Regions from separate parts of the Homo sapiens genome. Here region 2 is linked to region 1. The links come from fine-mapping of genetic effects on gene expression. Tissue or cell type: fibroblasts. Region 1 holds a variant in brackets; the other region holds the start of a gene. All regions are shown on one strand. Distances are from middle to middle.

Region 1 (2,766 bases):
TTTTTTCCATTATCTTGGAGGTAAACCTCCAAAGGGCCCACCAATATCAAGCAAAGGCTATGGAGGTTTACACCTCCTTACATGCTTATCCTTTTGTTTTGTTTTGTTTTTTTGAGACAAGGTCTTGCTGTGTTGTCCAGGCTGAAGTGCAGTGGCATGATTTCAGCTCACTGCAACCTCTGCCTCCTGGACTCAAGCCCTCCTCCCACCTCAGCCTCCTGAGTAGCTGGGACTATAGGCACACATCTCCATGCCTGGCTAATTTTTGTGTATTTTGTAGAGATGGTGTTTCACCATGTTGCCCAGCTGGTCTCGATCTTATGAGCTCAAGTGATCTTCCCACCTTGGCCTCCCAAAGTTCTGGAATTACAGGTGTGAGCCACTGGGCTGACCTGCTTATCCTTTTCTGATTCCATTTCTTTCATCTTGATAGCCAGGAGTCAGGTTGTGTTTTTTAAATCTAATTATAGTTCAGTAATTGTACTCAACAAAATTTCTTCTATTATGTTTCAATTATAAGTATTGCCAGAGAGTTTTATACCAGTGGTTTTTCAAGTGAAGTCTGGTCTTGGAACCAACAGTAGAGTATCACCAGGGAATGCCATAGAAATGCAAATCCTTGGGCGTCATTACAGACCTACTGAGTCAGAAAGTCTGGGGTAGCGCTCATTGACTTGTGTTTGCCCAAGCTTTCCAGGTGATTTCGATGTTAGCTAAAATTGGACTGTTTTAAACTCTTAATCGATGAAATTGACATTGAGGTAAATTGTAGTTTAATTTTTGTCCTGAGCTACCTAAAAAGTCTGTCCAGCATTTATAATATTTTTCTTACTTATATCCACATCCCCACATTGGCTCCCTGAGATGGTAGTAGAGTATAATGGTTCAGTGTGTGGGCTCTGAAGATGAACTGTAAGTTGGAATACTGGTGTTATTACTTACACTTCATATGGGCCCTGGAAAAGTTACTTCTCTGTGAAATGCAGTCATGGTACTTCCTGCCTTCTGAGGTCTTTGTGATAATTAAATAAGTAAAATGTTAGCTATAGTTGTTATTATTTAGCACAGTTATTTGCACAATGAATCATGAAGTATTGTTTTGGAAAGTAATATTTTAAGTTTCAACCAAGGACTTTAAAAATGAACTTTTGGGGAGACAACCAATTTGGGAGAGTTTCTGGGGTAATATATAATCTTCATGGCTCATTAGCCATATTTTTTCCTTTCTGAGTGTTGTTTGCAATTTCATTTTAATAATTTATTAGTAACTAAAAGTAGCTATAAAGAAGACA[T/C]TTATGCCAAAATATTTGAAGGTTATTTTCTTCATTTTTCTCTAATATTTTCACTTTTGAAAGGGAAGAAAATAATTGTATAAGCATCAGCCATCTTCTGCAGCCTTTTGCATCTATTTTGTTACCTTACGAGATCATCACAGTCCTTACTAAAACAAAAATTGTCACAACGTGAGTGAATTTAATATAAACTAGCATTTCCCCCTTCCCTTAGTGAATAATCATTGTTTGTAGAAAAAGCTCCCATCATTGAGTCATGTTTGTGATCAACACAAAGGGTAAATGAAAGGACCTTAGAGTGGTGAATAGGTATTCCTGCCTTGAGGGTTTCTTTTTCATTTAAACATTGGTGTACAAATACTTCAGTAGCTAATGCATTCTTGGTTACTCCTTAAGATATCTTATTCTTCTCTAAGTTTTTCTAATTGCAGTGCAATGACAACAGTCACATATCTGCCACTTATAGGAAGGGAGTAGAAAAGGAGGAGGCTGGGAAGACAGCTGTGTAAAGGTGAGATACGTGAGCACTGATGAACTTCACTCTCCACTGCAGCCCATATATAGCCTGCAGTTGTGTGCTTCTTTATTTTAGTCTCTACTAGGCTCTGGCAAGGAAAACAACATATTCTGCTGGAAGAAATTTTTCATTTGCCACTGCAATTTTTTTTTTTTGCCACTGCAATTTTTTTTAAAAGGGAGAGGTTAAGAATTAGGTGGTATTTGGTTTTCTGTTCGTGTGTTAGTTTACTAAGGATAATGGCCTCCAGCTCCATCCATGTCCCTCCAAAGGACATGATCTCGTTCTTTTTAATGGCTGCATTGGATCAGGAAAAATAACTAATGGGCTTAATACCTGGCTGATGAAATAATCTGTACAGCAAACCCCCGTGACCCAAATTTACCTGTGTAACAAACCTGCACATGTACTCCTGAACTTACAAGTTAAAAAAAAATGAAATAAAATGTGGAAAAAAAATTCGGTGGTGAAAACATTTTTTTCTTGATGTTATTCTCAGCCAAACAAGCTCATGCAAGCCGGAAAGATGTGGGAGTAAATATGGCAATGCCATTCATTAATCATGAAAACCATATTAAGGAAAGGGCTTCCCCTAACCCTCAATGTAATATACTAGGTCACCAGATCCATTTTTAGATTCAGAGATTTCTGTTCTCTGTTCAGAATCAAGAAACAGATGATGTATTACAGTTTTGCCTTTCCCTTCAGGAAGAGGAATAAAATATGCTTGAGAAGAAGATGGATTTGATTTTCTATAACCTTATAGTATGGAATGCATTTAGTGGGCTGAAAGTTGCAAATATTGTATATGCCTTTTCCCCTGATTGTCATTAATTTGGGGTTTTGAGGAGGAGGAATTTACAACTTACTCTTTCCATTTTCAAAACCAGAGTATAAAAACATGCTCTTTCGACCTTGAAAAATTGATTTTCAATTTATTATACATCAGAGGAACTA
Region 2 (2,766 bases), 28 kb before region 1:
CTCAGCTTCCCAAAGTGCTGGGATTACAGGCATGAGCCACCGTGCCTGGCAGTTATTTATATTTATTTGCTCTTATGTTTCCAGGTTTCTTCTAACTTTAAAATTCTATGACTGGAACAAATACATATGTGAACTTGGAAGTAGATCTTTCCCCTGTCCAGCCTTCAGATCAGACCACAGCCTTAGTCACCACTCCAATTGTGGCCTCCTGAGAGACACTGAGCTAAGGGCATCCAGGTTCTTGACCCACAAACTGTGAAATACATGTTGCTTTTAAAAAATTCCAAGAGTGGCCCTTAAATTTCTTTGGGACTATACCGTGTAATAGCGACTGACTCAAAAGGGTAGTCTGGAAACCTAATCTTAGCCCCTGGTCACCTCTAGCTAGTGTGCACAGACCTCAGATCTTGTCAGTCTCATTTCCCTACCTGTTAACGTGAGACAGTTGGGCAGAAGAACTTTAGCTTCCCTTAAATGCTACAACTCAGCGTCTCTATTAATCATACCGTTTATTCATCAAAATGAATACTGATAAAAATGACAAGTAGAACACACCCTAGATGTTCAGGCCTCTGGAATTGGTGGCAGCGTTCCAGCTTCCTTTCTGCCTGTAACTGTGAGTAAGTCCTGCTTTACCTCCTTCCCACCCCCCGCACCCACCAACAGCTCTCTATCATAAGCTAATCAGCTTGAAATAATTGTTAGGGCACTTCTGTGTATGGCCTGTGCATGTGCCAGTGTGTACACCGTGCAAGCTGAGCTGTTGAGGTTCTGGATGTGCATACAGCCCTGGCACCGGAAGGTTTGCCTCTAGCATTTTGTGGACTAACTCTGGCAGTACACAATGGGAAGAAAACCTCTTTCCAAGTGTGAGCCCTTCTCTCTTCTCATTCCCAAGGAGGTGTGTCCAGATCCCTTTGCCAGACAGCTACTTTACAGGAGCATTGGAGAGCAGGCAGCTAACTTTCCCCAACAAGCAGCTGGATTTACGTTGGCAAATCAATCCCTCTCAATAAAATGTTATGTGACCATCTTCCCAGCCCCCCGTTAAAATCCCTTCATTTTTTCGAGCAAGCGAACTAGTCAGAGAAGACAGAAAAGTTAAGTAAAGAAAGTGGCAGAAAAGTGAAGCAAAGCAACAGCCCGGGAGCGTGGCGGGGGGACCCGCGCGGGGACTCGGGTAGGCTGCAAACGCTGGGGAGATGCCACAGGAGCGCCTGCCTTCCCAGCTTCTCCTTTCTCTCGCCGAGGGTCTCTGGGGTTCAGCGCTCCCGGCGTTTCGGCGACCTCCGGGTCCGCCCTGTCCCCTCCCAGCTGGGGAGCTGAGCCCGGCTCTGCGCCCATCGCCGACCCCGGCCACTCTCCCTTCGCTGCTCGCTCCAAAAGCGCCTGTCCCGCCCCGCGGGGCGACTTCTCCCTTTCGGCCCTGGGGTTGAAGATCCTGTGTGGGGCAGCTGCGCCTTCGGGACAGCCCCAGCCGCGGAGCGCCCAGACCAGGGCAGCCGGAGTCGGGTCATACGCCGCACGCCGCCGGGGCCGCCGCACCTGAGCCCAGCTCCAGTCACGCCGGAAGCGCGGGCGGAGCGCACGGGTCCGGGGAGAGTCGCCTGCGCCCGCGAGGGGGACCCAAGTACCTAGGGTGGTGGCCGAGTCCCGCCTCCCGCCAGCGGGGGCGAGGACCTGCGACGCGCACCCCTGCCTGGCCCGGTCTCCTCAGCACCAGCCCCACGCACACCCTACTTCCTCAGCTTCTCGCCCTCACCCTGCCAACTTCCCTGCGAGGAGGGACCTGCCGCCAGCCTGCTTCCTCGTCCGCAGGCCCTGCGCTGAACGCTGCCGCGCCCAGGGTTCACCTTGCGCCGTCGGGAAAGCCCATGAACTCTCCAGAAACGGCGTAAAGGAGGGTCCCGCCGCGGCGCAGGGCTGGGGCGCCTGGGTTCCCCCTGGGTGGAGCAGCGGCAGCAGAGCGGGAAAGTGGTGGAGGATGATCTTGCGGCCAAAGGGGACCTCGGCGCAGTAATGTCAACATGTAAGTCTCACCTTTCAGCTTGGAATTCCTTCACTCTTTTATCTGTGTCCACCTTCTGTCGCCCCCTCCCCGACCACCCCACCCTCAAGAGAAATGATTTTATAAGGACTTCAACTGCACGGAGGGAATAAACCGGTTTGTCTTCAGTTTGCCCCTCGAGGCACTGAGGAGTAGGACTATTGCCAAGTGGAGTTGTGACATGTGTGTGTGGCTGTTTTTTTTCCCCCAGCGAGGTAAACCTCACATTTGGGCGGTGTAAAGCCTAATAAGAAGGGCAGGGCTTCAAGAATGGGGAAAACGTGTTTTCAATTCAAATTAAACAAGGAGTAACAGGCACCGCTCCTCAGTCCAGAGGCCTGGCCCTGCCAAGAAGGCGCTCTCCGGAATCAACACCTGGGGGCTTGGAAGGTACTAGTATGCCGAGAAAATGTTGACTTTACACATTGTCACCATTGACTGTAGAAGTTATTCTTGGATCTTTGGGGTGTTTGAATTTTTTTAAGGTGTGCAGAAAATGTTTTCAGTGTGCTTTGTAGTTTAGGAAGTAATTAAGGGTTACGCCACGTTACGTGATAGGATTTGAGGGGACTTCCATAGACTTATGGGGGGCGTGGGGAATTGGGGCATTGAAACAGAGAAACCTAAAAGGTTTTGCCTCCATAGAATTGTCATCCTAATGGTGAGGTGGCGCACAGCGACCCCATGAAAGGGTCGCCAAGCACCGTCTGGCTTTCCAG

Evidence for each region. PIP is the estimated chance that this variant, and not a neighbour inherited with it, causes the effect.
Region 2: ADGRG6 starts here. The variant in region 1 is fine-mapped to the expression of ADGRG6 in fibroblasts (GTEx, PIP 0.92).

The regions. Positions count from the first base shown.
Region 1 is chr6:142,328,108-142,330,873 of GRCh38, forward strand. The region is part of intron 2 of ADGRG6 (adhesion G protein-coupled receptor G6); the gene reads left to right. Among named protein-coding and RNA genes, the nearest start is that of ADGRG6, 27 kb to the left of the region's middle. The variant T/C (reference allele first, on the strand shown) is at 1,293.
Region 2 is chr6:142,300,303-142,303,068 of GRCh38, forward strand. ADGRG6 (adhesion G protein-coupled receptor G6) reads left to right here and starts at 1,705. Exons shown (of 25, transcript NM_198569.3): 1 at 1,705-2,029. The coding sequence starts at 2,028. RefSeq lists a silencer at 1,495-1,634.